Regions from separate parts of the Homo sapiens genome. Here region 1 is linked to region 2. A link means that fine-mapping ties the variant in region 2 to the expression of a gene that starts in the linked region. Tissue or cell type: stomach. Region 2 holds a variant in brackets; the other region holds the start of a gene. All regions are shown on one strand. Distances are from middle to middle.

The links. PIP is the estimated chance that this variant, and not a neighbour inherited with it, causes the effect.
Region 1: FBXO48 starts here. The variant in region 2 is fine-mapped to the expression of FBXO48 in stomach (GTEx, PIP 0.99).

The regions. Positions count from the first base shown.
Region 1 is chr2:68,463,877-68,471,986 of GRCh38, forward strand. FBXO48 (F-box protein 48) reads right to left here and starts at 3,418. Exons shown (of 4, transcript NM_001024680.3): 1 at 3,335-3,418; 2 at 2,268-2,594; 3 at 964-1,302; 4 at 1-494. The coding sequence starts at 1,269. The coding sequence ends at 333. APLF (aprataxin and PNKP like factor) reads left to right here and starts at 3,709. Exons shown (of 10, transcript NM_173545.3): 1 at 3,709-3,951. The coding sequence starts at 3,856. RefSeq lists enhancers at 2,499-2,558, 2,652-3,547, 3,548-4,442 and a silencer at 3,784-3,993.
Region 2 is chr2:68,683,074-68,691,184 of GRCh38, forward strand. No RefSeq gene overlaps it. Among named protein-coding and RNA genes, the nearest start is that of PROKR1, 44 kb to the left of the region's middle. The variant G/A (reference allele first, on the strand shown) is at 4,721.

The DNA.
Region 1 (8,110 bases), 220 kb before region 2:
ATCATTAAGCTGAACATACAAATCACTCTTACATTTAGTATTGCAAATATATTAACACAAATACATGAAACATTGTATTTGGAAATCACTCTATCAGTATATTATTTCTTATAAAAATAACATTTCATGATTTTTCCACATTACAATAAAACCAGAAAAATTTTACTAAAGTGCAAAACAAAAATAAAGCTTTACTTTTATAATAGTTCCATTTCATTTTCTTTTAAAAAGGTGAACAACAAAATGAACGAATAAAGATATCGCTTTTGCAACCTAAGAGTCATTTAAGTTTTAAACTTTCAAAGACCTGAGATTTGTGATTTTTTTTCCCCTTATCTTTCCAGTTCTGCTTCTAGAATTTCCCCCCATGTATCTGCATCCATTGGGTACATGATTTTTTCTGGTAGGCTAATGGGAGAACAAATGTTGCTGTATCTGCCACTTAGCCATTCGTGTTTCACTTTACTCTTCTGGTAATTCCTCAGCAGTATCACCTGAAAGAGGTAAATCACCGTTAAAAAAGACTGTAGTAGGTGGTTGGTTAGTGAATGTGTTTAAAGCAAGAGAAGCAGATTGACAGGGCTGAAAAAAAGAGTATTTACATTTATATATACGTACATTAATAAATGTATGTGTCTGTGTACGTGTGTGTATGTATATGTGTATTTATACTGAGTGGCATAAGGTGAAGTGGAAAGAAGGAGCTAATTCCCTTCTGGTTAACGCAGGAAAATTCCCGAATTTAGAATTTTAAAAATGCAAAAGGATAAATGAAAGATAGTGTGGAAACAGTGTGGTTAGCAGGAAAAGACTAATAACTTTAACTCATTTCCAAGAGTCAACACACTGTCTGTGTTATTCTGCATATGTAATTCTGACTCCTCCAAGCAGAAGTTAGAATTGGCGCAAACCTGCTATCATAACGCTGTCAACAACACTGCAGATCGCAAAGATTAAACTTACCCTCCAGGAATAACCACTTTCTAGATCATCATCTATTTCTCTTCGGCACACAGCTCTTACAGTCATGCAGTGAGGTTTCCATAAAGAGTCACTGTTTCTTATTGTGTCATTCCAGCTCCTGCATGTCAATGAAGCCCTGCACAGACTCCGAATGTCCAGCTGACTGAAAATTTTAAAAGTGATTTCTGCAGGCAGCAGTTCAAAAAAGTTGTTTTGACTCTCATTTTTTTCCTTCTCAGCATCCACAGAGTTCGCTTCTGTGTGAGAAACTCTTAAATTATTGTTTCTCTTGGAGTTTTTATGCATAGCTTAATGTTTTAAGTTATCCTCATATGTAACCTAAAAGGCAAAATTTAAACATGCTCAGTCTCCAAATAGGAGTATAAATCCTACTTTAAGTCAGATGCTTTTTGGGTATAATTTAAGAACTCTTTCTTGACTTTAGCTTCTCAATCTGTAAAATGGGCCAATGCTGCCGCTCTCCTGAAAGTTCTTGCAAGGATTAACAGTGATAGTGGGTAAAATATCTAGTCTTGCTACATCTGAATTGCACATGGGAGGCACCCAACATGTTAGTTTCACTCTCACCCAGGCTGGAGTGCAGATGTGTCATAATAGCTCACTGCAGCCTCAAACTCCAGCCTCAAGCGATTCTCTTGACTCAGCGTACCCCGCCCCTCTTTAAAAAAAAAAAAAAGAAAAAAAAAAAAACAGAAAACCAAAAACTGTTTTACGGAGAAATGGTTCTTGCTATGTTGTCCAGGCTGGTCTTGAACTCTTGTCCTCAAGCAATCCTTCTGCCTCAGCCTCCCAGAGTGCTGGGATGACAGGTATGAGCCACCATACCCGGTACTTTTGTACCTTTGAAAATGTATATGAGTCAATCCTATTAAACTCCTGAATACTTGTTGTACATGGGAACTGATGCCTCATCATTAATTTGCAATTTGTGACTTAATCATAAACTTGCTGGACTTCTAGTTGTTTATATAAGAATTTTATCTACTTGTATCTTATAGGTAGGTAGGTGCTTACATTTGACACAACTACTATCTGAAATGGACAAGAAGATGAGATCTGGATTATGAAACAAAGTCTCAAATATTCAACTCAGTCATAAGAGTAGTGTTTTAGAAATGGCCCCTTGAAGCTATCCTACATGCATAATTACAAGCTAAGGATAATAGTCACTGAAGACATCAAGCAACAGTGAGTGACAACTGTAAACAATGTTTAGAACTCAGCTAGGTACAGTATGTGACTCTTTGAAGCCCAGATTTAAAGCTCAGTTTCAGCTAATTTACCTAAGGTGAATGGTGTAGGCTTCCCAAATCAGTTGAAAGCATGACTGGGTACATCACCATCCTTGAGTTACTTTTGTATATAAAGACAGCTTGTATTCACTTAAAATCAGTTTATTCCATTTTGCACTTCCTTTTATAACGGGGGTTGGTTGTGCAAGAGGAGAGGTTTGAGGTAAATACTTCTTTTAACTCAGCTGAACACAAATCTCTTTTCTAGACGAGCTACTCAGCTATGTTTTCGGACTTGCCAAGACCACGGTGGCTCCCATTCATGATCCAGATTAGCTGTGGTGGCTGGAACTGCAGTCTGTGTTCAACAGAGGTCTTCTTCTTGAGGGTTAGGAGAAGTAAGAAAGCAAACGTAAAAACGGGTGAGTCAAGAGCAAGTTTTTGCCATGCACCTTGGCCCCTCCCACCACCAATACAAACCAAAGCCAAACCACAACGTTCTTGAAAAGAATCTCACATTAGGAAAACGTTACAGTGCATTTAAACGTTACAGTGTGTTTATCCACTTCTCCCAGGATCTTACTGGGAGAATAAAATGCGTCCCCTTGTGGAATTCCTGTAACGGGAATGAAGGCTTTTGAATTTCACAGCAGGGGATACCTTTGCGAGTTTCTAAAATCCCACTAGGAATCTTTCTTCTACGTCCAGGTTCGCCTGGATGCCTGGAAACGACCCCTCTTCTGCCCTTTCTCCTTTATGAACTGAGCTTTCCTGAATTCTCTCTCAAGTGAAGTAAAAGCTCGTCCCCCTTTCAACTATCATTCGGAGGGATAGATCGGCGGCAGCGCAGTCGGAGGGGCGGGGAGCCCCACTCCGTCCAAATCCCGCGGGTCAGGGCTAATCACCCCACGTCCCGTCTGAGCCACCCTCCTTGTGTCCCGCGCGGGTTGCAGCTGCTGGAACCCAAGAACACAGGGCACTGACAAGTGACAACAACCGTCAGCGTTGACTGTCACTGCGGCTCCAGGCCGCGGAGGGAAGGCTGAGCTTGCGTCCAGGCCGCGTCCCCGGGAGCGTAGACACCTAAGCCAACGGGAACGGAAGACCCTTCTACCTACTAGGCCGCGGTAGCTTCTCCTCCCGCGATTTAAATCCACCGGAATTCGAATCCTTCCCCATAGCTCTTCGCATCCCGCCCACCTGAGTCCCGCCCTGCTCAGAACTCGCGCAGGCGCCGAGAGGGGCGCGCAGTGCCTTTGGGGATTGGTAGTTTTTTCCAGGGCGTCTCCGCTCGGGAAAGGAAGTGAAGAAAGCCACCAGGACTACAAGGCCCGGCGTCCTCCAAGATGGGAGGGAGGTGAAAAGGGTGTTGGGGAATAAGCCGGGGTTTTTAAACAGTAGTTTTGAGGCGGCGAGACTGGGGAATCCCCGGTTGCGTCATTAGTAGGCGTGGAGGGGCGGGACTCGTGAAGCTGCGCTGGGGCCGGGCTCTGAGAGGACCGGCGCAGCCGCGGGGAGCCTTTGAGGCCCTCCCTCGGTGTTTTTTCCCAGGGCGTGGGCTTGCCCCGCGCGTGTCTGTGGAGGGCGGAAACAGCGGAGGGGCCAGTCTCCTGGCGAAGGGGCCTAATCCTTGCCCGCCATGTCCGGGGGCTTCGAGCTGCAGCCGCGGGACGGCGGTCCCCGGGTGGCCCTGGCGCCCGGGGAGACGGTGATCGGCCGCGGGCCGCTGCTGGGAGTAAGTGTGGGCGGGGGCTTAGCGGACCCCGAGAGCCGTGGAGTTCCGCGCCGGCTCCTGAAGACCGGCCCTAGTCCTGGCCGGTTTCCCCACCGCACTGGTCCGCCGGTCCGGATTTTAGAAGTTTGGGGCCGCACGTTTTTCAGTTACCTTTAAGCCAATTCACAAACATTTCTTTATGTTGCTTTTAAAACACTGACTGTATTACCATTATTATCTTATCCAGGGATTGGCAAACTAGTGCCTGGGGGCCAAATCCAGCCTATGTTTGTATGGCCCCATGAACTAAGAATGATTCTTAAATTCTGAAATGTAAAATGTAAACAAAAAATCTACTAATTTTTCAGGGGGAATAGTTGCTCCAAGGGTTGAGGGTATTGCGGCTTGTCTTGTAAAGCCTAAAATATTTACAGTAGTGTCTGGTCCTTTACAGAAAAGTTTGCCAAACTGTGATATTACGTCTTCTAGGCTAATTTCTTTTAACCTTTGGTCTCCTTTGCAGAGCTGTGTGGACCTTATTTATTTATATTATTTATTATTTCCAGTAAAATGAGTAGCTAACCCTTCATAAGTAATGTGTATAGCGTTCGTGTCATTGGTCTAAGGAGACATTACCTATACCAACATCTTTAACTGTCTCAAGACCGTATCAGTTAGCTATTTTTATTATCCTCATTGTTCAGATGAGAAAATTGAGCCATACATACATTATTTAAAGTCCATACATAAGCTTTTGGACACATAATGCCACAAAGCTAAATATTCTCTACCTTCTTTGGGAGAGGTTTAGGAATAAGAACATTTGCATATTGCATTCTGGAATTCTATAGATCTCTTAAGTACATCTAGTTTTCTATTTTGTTCTTTAACATTCAACATTTCTTGTTTGGTGCTCACTGTGTAGAACATTTTGCAGATTCTAGCACTGTGGGGCATACAAAGATGAATGGAACATGGGTCCCTACCCTTTAGGAGTTTTCTCTTGGGACCGGGGAGACACCTGTGTCAGTGAGCTAACACCAAGGAGTAAGGAGTGTGTACTGTTGTCCTGGTTAACTTCCAGAGTCTAAATGGAACCATTGGTACTTGCCTTAGGTCCCTTCTGGGAGCAGGGAAAGGAGTGGTAGTTTAAGATTGTATTATGGAAGCTGGTCCTAAAGGGGTGTGTGTGTGTGTGTGTGTGTGTGTGTGTGTTGTGTGTTGTGTGTTGTGTACATGCACATGTGCATGTGGTAAGGTTATTGAGGAAGTAGATATTCAATTGCTGTTCATTTTTTTACTGGACAAGTGATTATTTAAATATTTAACATCATTTCTATTTTTTTCATCGTTTGTTGGCCTATACAAACACTGGAAGGAACTGTCTGGAGGCTTTATTTTTCTTTTAAATTCGTAGGTTTGAAACTTAAGAGTATGTGCTTAATCTAGTAATCATATGTCTGGTGACTAACGAGTTTTGACTTGCTTAAGAAATTGTCACCAGTAGAGTACTGTGGGTCTGGTTAAAAGGTGGATGAATTTTAGGGCCGTGGTTTAGAAACATGGCAACAGATTGCAGACCGTTTCATTATTTGTAGCTTGTTCTTTGTGTTGTCGACTTGCTAATGTGAGATGAGCCTATTTGGTATCTGTTTTTAAAAATGGTAAGGAGTGAAAGCTGGGCAATTACCTGGTCAAGATTTTGCTTTTCCTTTTGAAATAACATTCAGGGATGAGATTCTTTTGCCAAGGTTGGCGTGTATCAGAAGTGGTTATGAATGACATCCTAAGTGTGTTAAAGGAAAAATTTGGAGAACAAACAAATCGCCTTGTAGTTTTTTCGATTTTGGAGCTGACAGATGCACTCGATTCTTCTCTGCACTGGTTAAAACACAACATAAGGGCTCCTGTTTCCAACAACAGCAATTCCAGTGAGATTTATTTTTGTATTGTGAGAGAGCGAAGACTGAGTTCTAAGTGGAAAACTCAGTAAGTTCATTGTAAATTGGAATCGGAAACGATTAATATAAATAAGGATGATTTTGAACTTTCTTAATTGGGCATGTTTTTCTGAGACAAGCTTCACAAACCTTGATGGCCACACAAACATAAAAGTTTATAATCTGACTGTGTAAAATAGTCTTGGTAGTAAAACAGTTTGACAATGAGAATGGTTTTGTATTTTTATGGTGGTAGGAAAACACAACAGAGAAACCTGTCACAGAGAACAAAGGACAATGAAATTTAATCTTTCTTGTTCCCTTTGCTTTCATGTGAGTCATCAGAGAACCCCAGGTCTTTGTTTACTAGATTTTGATTCTGCTCCATGATTGGCATCAGTTAGAAGGTTTTACAGCAGGATTAATCTTCAGAGAACTTGAGTTAAAACAGCCAATCCAAAAGATTACATATTGTGTGATTCCATTTATATAACATCATTGAAATTGCGAAATTGCAAAATTTCAAAAATGGAGAACAGATTAGTGGTTGCCAAAGGTTAAAAAATTAGGCAGCAGGGCAGAAGGGAATGGATATGGCTATAAAATAGCAACATGAGGGATATTTGTGGTGATAGAAATGTGCTTTGTCTGGACTGTGTCAGTATCAATATCTTAGGTTGATATATTGTACTATAGTTTTGTAAGACGTTACCATTAGGGGAAACTGGATAAATGGTACAAGAGATATTTCTATATTATATCTTTCAACTACATGTGAATCTACCATTATCTTAAGAAATTTAATTTAAAAGGGTTTTACAGTACGACATGTCAAGCACTGTTAGGCCAAAGTATTTGCTTTATGGGTTTTAATTAAAGCTGTTACACTCTTAAATGAAATCTACTATTTCTGATTTCAGATTTTTCTTATTTTGTTTTGACAGCAGGGATTATATGACACATTTCTTTATGATCTATTTTCCTCCTAGGAAACAAGATAGCAAAAGATATCTAGTGATACTTTCTCAATGTAGATGTAATTAAATTGACTGCTTTGATTAAAAGGAGAAGAGTCCTCAGTTGGGGGAACAGGGAAGGTCATAGGCTTCAGTATAGACTCTTCAGGTGGCATCAGTTCACCACTTCTAAGAATGTTGTAAATGTTCTACAAAGTTTACACAAAGTAACCATCCCCTGACCTGGCAGCTCTATACTTTTAACTGCTTGTTGCAGAATCCTGGCTGTCCTGGAATGCTGTTCCTACCTGCTCCAACATAGGTTTCTTCCCTTACGTTTCTTTTATTTCTAGATTTGCCCTTCCCTCATTTTATTATTTAGCCTACAACCAGTGCCTAGCACACAGTAGGCCTTTAACACGTGATTTCTTCCTTCCATTTCGGCATCTCAGCCTCTCATTCACTCTACCCTCAAAAAGAGCCTAATTGTGACTTAGATATGAAAAAGGGTTATCATTGAGTTTTGAAGTGAATTTAAATATAGTAAAGATGCAGTCCTACCAACTGCTAAATCTTGAGTAGCATTCATAATGAATTAAGTTTTAACATTTTTCCTGTTTTGTTGATTGATAATTCGCTAAATTCAGGAAATAGCTGATAAATATATACTATGGTTGGATGGGAGGGAGTATAGGAGAAATAAAGGTGAATGAGAAACAAGTCTTTGCTCTCAAGAAACTTATAGTTTTGTAGGGTTAAGAGACAAATAAACAAGTATTAGTAACTAAATAAGGCTACAACCTCACATGGGGACTGGCGCCAGGCTGACACTTGGAGTAAGCGAAGTGGGAGGGAAGAAGAAAAACAACACAGGGACAGTGATAAATGACAACAGTTCTGCCTCAGTGTTGGGAAGGCCACAAGGAGAGGGTCTCTATGCAATCCCTGCTACTTTCCCCTATTCCCAGTTGGTAACAGTGTCATATTGTTTTTTTAAGAATAGTAAGAAATTTGAATTTTTAGATATAATCACTGATTTTTAAAAGGTCACATTTTTATTAAAAGTTTTGGTTAAATACCATGAGTCTGTTGATGAAGAGTTAAATTCTATAAAATATTTCAAGAGATTTATTCTGAGCCAAATATGAGTGACCATGGCCCGTGACACAGCCCTCAGGAGGTCCTGAGAGCATGTTCCCAAGATGGTCAGGGTACAGCTTGGTTTTTATATATTTTAGGGAGGCATGAGACATCAATCAAATACATTTAAGAAATACATTGGTT
Region 2 (8,111 bases):
AAATAATAAATATAAAAACAAATTTTAAAATAAAAAGAAGGCTGAAAAATGGACACATTTAAAGTTTGTTCCTTGAAAAGATTAATAAATTGATACATCCTCAGCAAGACAGAGAAGAAAAATACAAATAACCAATACCAGGATTGAAACAAGAGATATCAGTGAAGATTCTATATTTATTAAAAAGAGGGGGTAATATGAACAATTTTATGCTAATAAAATTTAAAATTCAGATAAAATGAATGAATTTCTAGCAAGATACAACTTAACAAACTTACACACACAAAAAATGGAAAATCTTAGTAGCTTGCCTTCCTTCCTTCCTTTCTTTTTTTTTTTCTGAGACAGTGACATTCTCTATTGTCCAAGTTGGAGTGCAGTGGCAAGATCATAGCCCACCATAGCCTTCACCTCTTGGGTTCAAGCAAACTTCCCACCTTAGCCTCCTGAGTAGCTGGGACTAAGGTGTGCACCAACACACTTGGCTAATTTTTAAAATTTTTTTGTAGAGATGCAGTCTCACTATGTTGCCCAAGCCAGTCTTGAACTTCTAGGCTCAAGTGATCCTCCTGCCTCAGCCTTCCAAAGTGCTAGGATTACAGGTGTGAACCACTACACCCAGCTGAAAATCTTAATAACTTCATATCTATTTAGAACACTAGGTTTGCAATCAAAACTCATTCGCCCCCTCCCTCATAAAAACAACCACCACCAATAGCAGTAACAAAATCTCTGTCTCAAATAGTTTTATGAGGCTAGAATAACATTGATACCAAAACCTGACAAAGATATTACAATGAAAGGAAATTATAGACTAATATTCTTAATTAATTTAGATGAAAAATTTCTTCATAAGATCTAAGAAAACTGGATACAGTAATATATTCAATTGTATTAAAATATATTTGAATGTATATATGTATTACATGTAATCCAGTAATATATATGTGTGTGTGTGTGCATGTGTATGCATATGTAAAATCACAACAATGACATTTAGCCTGGGATGGCAAGATTGGCAAAACACTTGGAAAACAACCAGCATAATTCACCACATTAACGAATAAATAATTAGTAATTGAAGTAATTGAAGTGAGCATCCTTAACCTGATAAGGAGTGCCTACTAAAAACCTAGATAAAATATAAATGTTTTTCCTTTAAATCTGGATCATGACAAGGCTGCCTGCTCTTACCACTTCCATTCAACATTATGCTACAGTTCTGCTAGTTTAATAAGGCAATAACGATATTTAAAAAGGCATAAAGATTGGAAAAGAAGAAGTAAAAAGGTTTTGCTCTGTTTCCCAGGTTTGAGTGCAGTGATGCGATCATGGCTTACTGCAGCCTCAACCTCCTGTGTTCAAGCAATCTTCCTGTCTCAGTCTCCCAAGTAGCTGGGACTATAGTGCATGCCACCACACCCAGCTAATTTATTAATATTTCTTTTGTAGAGATGGGGGTCTCACTCTACTGACCAGGCTTGTCTTGAACTCCTGGCCTCACATGATCCTCCCACATTGGTCTCCGAAAGTGCTGGGATTACAGGTGTGAGCCACCACATCTGGCTGGAAAATACAATTTTAAAGCAATACTATTTACAATAGTATTAAAACCCATTTGTTACTTAGGAAGGAAAGATGTGCAAGACCTCTGTACTTGAAACTCCAAATCCTGTTGTTATTAAATTAAAGAAGACACTGAGTTAACTTTTTAAGAATTAAGTGGATCATCCAATCAACCATCCAATGTTTGTGGATTGGAAAACTCAGTTTTGTTATGATACTTATTCTTCTCAAATTTATAGATTTAACAAAATTCCAATTAAAATTCCAGCAAGCTCTTTTCTGTAGAAATTGACATGCTGATTCTAAGATGTATATAAAATGTGAAGGATCTAGAAATTTAAAAAGAAGAACAGAGTTGGAGGACACCTACCACTTGATTTCAAAACTTACCATAAAACTATGGTAATCAATATGGTGTGGTATTGGCATAGGACAGACAACTTAATCAAAGGACCAGAAACGAAGGTCCGGAATCAGACCCGCACATATACGGGCAATGAATTTTTGACAAAGGCACCAAAACAATTCAATGTGAAAAAGCAACTTGTGTTTGTTTGTTTGTTTGTTTGTTTGTTTTTCAACAAATGGTCCTGGAACAATTGAATAGCTAAATGGCAAGAAAAGAACCTCAAACCTTCTTTCTATAGATACACCAAAATTAATTTCAGATGGCTCAAAGGTTTAAAAATATAAGCAAGAACTAAAGGGCTTGTAGAAGAAAACATAGGAGAGTATCTTCACAGTCTTAGGGGCAGAAATAGATTTATTGGACAGAACATAAAAACATAATATAAAATAAAATTTTATAGATTAGAATTCATCGAAATGAAAATGTTCAGCTCATATGAAGACACCAGTAAGTAAATAAGTAGGCAAGCCACGAACCAGGAGGAAAAATTTGTAATACGTATATCTAACAAGAACTTTAATCCAGAATAAAGAATTACTAAAAATTAACAATGAAATGCCAACCCAATAAAAAGTAGCAAAAGCCTTGAACAGATATTTCACAAAAGAAAATGTATGAATGGCTAATTAGCACATGAAAAGTTTCTCTCTCATTATACTATAATCTCCACAAGGACAGAGAATATATTTGTTTTGTTGGTATTCTTTTTTTAAATTTTATTTTACTTTAAGTTCTGGGATACATGTGCTGAACCTGCAGGTTTGTTACATATGTATACATGTGCCATTGTGGTTTGCTGCACCTATCAACCCATCATCTAGGTTTTAAGTCCTGCATGCATTAGGTATTTGTCTTAATGCTCTCCCTCCCCTTTCCCCCCATCCCCCAACAGGCCCTTGTGTGTGATGACTTAAAGGTGAGCAGAACTTAGTCTGGTGTCTTAGTTTATTCAGTCTGCTATAACAAAATACCTTAGACTGTGTAGTTCATAAATGAAACTCACAGTTCTGCAGGGTGGGAAGTTCAAGACCAATGCACTGTCAGATTCAGTGTCTGGTGAGGACCTGTGTCTCATAGATAGCACCTTCCATGTGTCCTTATGTGGCAGAAGGGGAAACACGCCTCCTCAAGCCTCTTTTATAAGGGCAGTAATGCCATTCATGAAGGCTGCCCTCATAACCCTATCACCTCTCAACGGCCCCACTTCTTCACGCCATCACCTTGGGCCTTAGGTTTCAACATAAGAATTTTGTTGGGGGCACAAACATTCAGTTCACAGCTCCTGGTATGGGATATGCAAAGGTCCAGGGAAGGAAGCAGGCCCTCCCACAGAGAGGCGTCTGAATGGAAACAGAGCAAGCTAGGGTAGGAGAGAAGCATTCTACTTAGATGGAACTCGACTGGTTAAGAATCTATTAGACAGAACTGGATTTTTACATGCCAAACAAAAGGGCCTATGTGATTATTTCTAGAGTACCCAGAAAGCGAGTAGCACATGCCTGAGATTTCATCCAGAAATGGAGAAAAGAGTAAGTCCAGAAATGTTGGTTTAAATGTCCATGGGAGAAGGAATAAAATTGCTTAATGTTTTCACACTAAAAAAAAGAAAAGAAAAAAAAAAGAAAAGGTTCTCAACATCATTAGTTATTAGAGAAATGAAAAATAAAACCACAGTGAGATGGCAATTTCCACCAACTCGAACGTCTAAAATTTAAAAAATATTGGCAATACTATATTAGCAAGAATGTGGAGAAGACTGCAACTCTCATACATTGCTAGTGGGAACACAAAATGGTACAACCCCTACCACAAGATGCCGACTTCTGTGGTCCTTCTTTATAGTTTTCCATTGAAACAGTCCTCCCAAATAGATCCGATGTCCCACCTGGGCCGTCGAACACGTATGGGCACATACCTGTCCATGTGTGTTCTGCCCCTGGCCCACCACACATGCAGGAAAGAACATCTTAATGACTGTGGATTTGCTAGAAAAATGTGAACTTTCCATTAAAACCTAACCACATTTATGGCATCAATTTTTTTTTTTTCTATAGCAGTGTTTAGTTTAATTTACAAAATGCTCAAGTAGAATACACATGACAATGTTAAGCACTGTATACAGTTAAGTGTCAAATTATGTTTCACTATAGAAGTGTGACGGCTTCACAACACATGATTGATATGATGCTATTAAAGAATCAGAGCAGACATGCTACATGATTTTTATTTTAAACCAGGCAGGCATTTCCTTCTCTATATTCTTTGTTGCAGTCTACTGTATAAAAGTCAGTTGGAAGTTTTTGTGTTTTAGTAATTTTGCTGAATTTACCATTGTCAATTTGAGATTATTCTTTTAAATGTTGTTAAGTCCTTTTCTTCCCATTTACAATTTCAACTCAGTTTACTAAAATTCAAAATAACCAGTGAAAATACATTTTCAAAGATGCTTTAATATATTTTATAGTACATTTATTTGTCATTCTGTATGAAAACTTCCTTTTTTTTTTTTTTGAGACAGAGTCTTGCTGTGTCACCCAGGCTGGAGTGCAGTGGCGCAGTCTCAGCCCACTGCAAGCTTCGCCTCCCGGGTTCACGCCATTCTCCTGCCTCAGCCTCCCGAGTAGCTGGGACCGCAGGCGCCCACCACCACGCCCAGCCAATTTTTTTGTATTATTAGTAGAGACGGGGTTTCACCGTGTTAGCCAGGATGGTCTCGATCTCCTGACCTCGTGATCTGCCCGCCTC[G/A]GCCTCCCAAAGTGCTGGGATTACAGGTGTGAGCCACCGCGTTATGGCATCAATTTTAAAGTGAAGCTGAATATGACTACCTTACTGATATGGTTTGGCTGTGTCCCCACCCAAATCTCATCTTGAATTGTAGCTCCCATAATTCCCATGTGTTATGGGAGGGACCCTGTGGGAGATCATTGAATCATAGTGTTGATTAAGTCTCACAAGATCTGATGGTTTTATAAGAGGAAACCCCTTTTGCTTGGCTCTCAATTCTCTCTTGTCTGCTGCCACGTAAGACATGTCTTTTGCCTTCTGCCATGATTGTGAGGCCTTCCCAGGCACATGGAACTGTAAGTCCATTAAACCTCTTTTTCTTTATAAATTCCCCAATCTTGGGTATGTCTTTATCAGCAGCATGAAAATGGACTAATACACTTACCTTTCACCATTTACTCTATTTTCTCTTTTCAAACTAAATAATAATCTCTTAATTTCTGTATCTCCAGAACCTATTATTATAGTTTCTGGACTATGATGAGGTGCAATAACCATGAATTTAGTCACTTTCATGTGGAACATAAATGGCAGGAAATAAATTGTTTGGAAAGTATTACATGTTTTACTATTCATTTACTCAAAAGTATTTTTGAGCTCTTATTTTCTCCTTCTTAATTTAAAAAACCTCAGGCTGTTGAAGGAGAGATCATGTATTCATTTATTTCTTAGCTACTGGGCAGAGCAAAAATCAATAATTAGAAGAAGTGTGTTTTCCATGAAATTTTACACTCAAATCAACATTATAACTGTAGTGAAATTGGCATCACATTCTAAATAAGGGACCGAGCTATTCTTGTAGGAAATATAAACCTGGTATGAAAAGTAAGTGCTTATCAATAACACTTCCAGGAAGCAATTTTTACTCCGGGGCAATTTGCTGTGCATGCTGGGTCACTGCTGAGTTCAATGCTTCAGAACTTTAGATGATGAAAATGCCTTTCTTCCACATTACGTGCACTGCTGAGTTTCAGTTGGAAGGGTCCTTAGAGACCACCTGGTCCAACCCCCTTTTGCTTTTTATTTTCTTTCTTTTTTTTTTTTTTTAGGGGACAGGGTCTCACTCCATTGCCCAAGCTGGAGTGCAATGGCATGAGCACAGCTCACTGCAGCCTTGAACTCCTGGTTCAAGCAATCCCACCACCTCAGCCTCACACACAGCTGGGACTTGTCAATGAAAAGAGTCAAACTCAGTAAAATATTTGAAAAAAACGTATTCTGAGCCAGGTTTGAGTGACCCATAGCCCATGACGCAGCCCTCAGGAGATGCTGAGAATATGTGTCCAAGGTGGTTGGGCCACAACTTGGTTTCACACATTTTAGGGAGACATAAGGCATCAATCCATACATGTAACATATACATTGGTTTGGTTCAGAAAGGCAGGTTAAATGGAAGCTGCGGGCTTTCAGATCATAGGTAGAACCAAAGATTTTCTGATTGGCAATTGATTGAAATAGTTATTATCTAAAGACTTAGAAAGAGTGTTTTGGTTAAGATAAAGGGTTGTGGAGACTAAGGTTTTATTACACAAGCGAAGCCTCTAGGTAGCAGGATTTAGAGAGAATAGATTGCAAATGTTTCCTGTCAGACTCAAAAAGTCTTTTCTATGAGTAATTCCAAAAGGGAGGAGGGTATAATGGAGCATGTCTAGCACCCCCTTCCCATCATGGACTGAACTGGATTTTCAGGTTAACTTTGGAATGCCCTTGGCCAAGAGAAGAGGCCCATTCAGATGGTTGGGGGGCCTTAGAATTTTATTTTTGGTTTACAGACTATAGGTATGCACCACCATGCCTGGATCCCCCTTATTTTTCAATTAAGAAAGCACTCCAGGGTGGTTAACTACTTACGCAAATATTACAGAGTTATTTGAGATTTGTGATAAGAATCTGGTCTTGCAATTCTTGGTTCATTATTCTTTCCTTTACTGCAAGTAGGTAAGAAGATAAATCATGGGTATGGTTTATTGTCAGTGTCCTAGGGTGACAGAGAATCAGTTTTGGGGAAAATAGGTTAATTACAAAGCTTTCCAGAAGACTTGTTCCTCAGAAACTAAATTACATATCTTCTTTTCCTGCTCCCAATCATTGCCTCTCATGCAGGATTAGGCCAAGCAGGTGGGAAGAGAACTGAATACTAGAGGGTCTTAGAGAAAATGAAGTTTAGCCAGTCATTCATAGAAGAGGAACTGAAACTTATTTCACAGAGAGGTTAAGCAACCTTCATTCTCCCTTTAGTGAAAGAGGCAAATATTCTTTAGAAACCCATGTGACAGCTTCGTTCTCTTGCAGCTGATTTTGAATCTTGCAGTTAATCATGATCTCTGGGCCATGGGCCTTATTGTCTTGAGGCTCTCATTTTACTGATTGATAAAGCAGAAAAACAGAGAAGTGGTGTGATGTGGCGAGAAAGTGCTAGCAGGAAATGAGATAGCTATTACCACCCAGGGCTCTCCTGTTTCTCTCTGCAAGACTCCTTTGGAAATCTTGCATTGCCTTCCCCTTTCTGAGTAATTCCGCGGGGCTTCATTTAGATTGTGCTCATTTGCATTAACTCTCATAACGAAGAGGTGTATTACCAACTGAAATGGAAAAAGGCCTGTGGTTACTTTGTGTCTTCTCTGCTGTCTCTGGTCTCTGGGACCAGAACTCATCCTCAGTACCGAGAGCCAAAGAGGAGCTGACCATGGATTAGATGAAATAAGGTACTGTGTACCTGACACCCAGGAAATAGTCAGTGTTTCTTACCTCCTAGTATTGTTGCAAAATGAAGCAGAATACAGTATATCTTTTGATTCAAAGGTGTCATTAGGCCTTATAACTATTAACCAATTAACAGGTTAATATTTTAGCTTGCACTTTTGCTTTAAAATCTGAATATTGCATGTTAATTTAAAATATGGTTTGTTAGGAGTGTGGTAGGAATATAACTTGTTTGAAATTGACATCAATGTCTAAAATGAAAAACCATGCATCCCAAAACATGGTGATTACCAGCGGAAGGTCAGGAAAACATGCTTCTCTTCTGCAGATGGAGGTACAATGAGGTGTTTGACAGGGGCTTATGTTCCCAACACACCTGGCCTGGACTCTGCATGGAGAAAAAGGTTTGTTCACTAGACTGAGATTTCGAAGGGTAGAGTATTTGTAGAGAGAAGCCAGGTCTCCAGTGTTGCTGGGTTTGGGGAAAGCCTGTAATGGATTCAGGTGTCCAGGTGAGAACAGCTTTCTGACAAATGTGCTGCTGAGGGTGATGTTCTCTCAGCACGTGGCCTGTGAGCTCTCAGTGATGCTCCAGCCAGCAGGAGTACACCAATAAGCCTGACTCTCTGCCAATAGCTGGGGCCAGAGG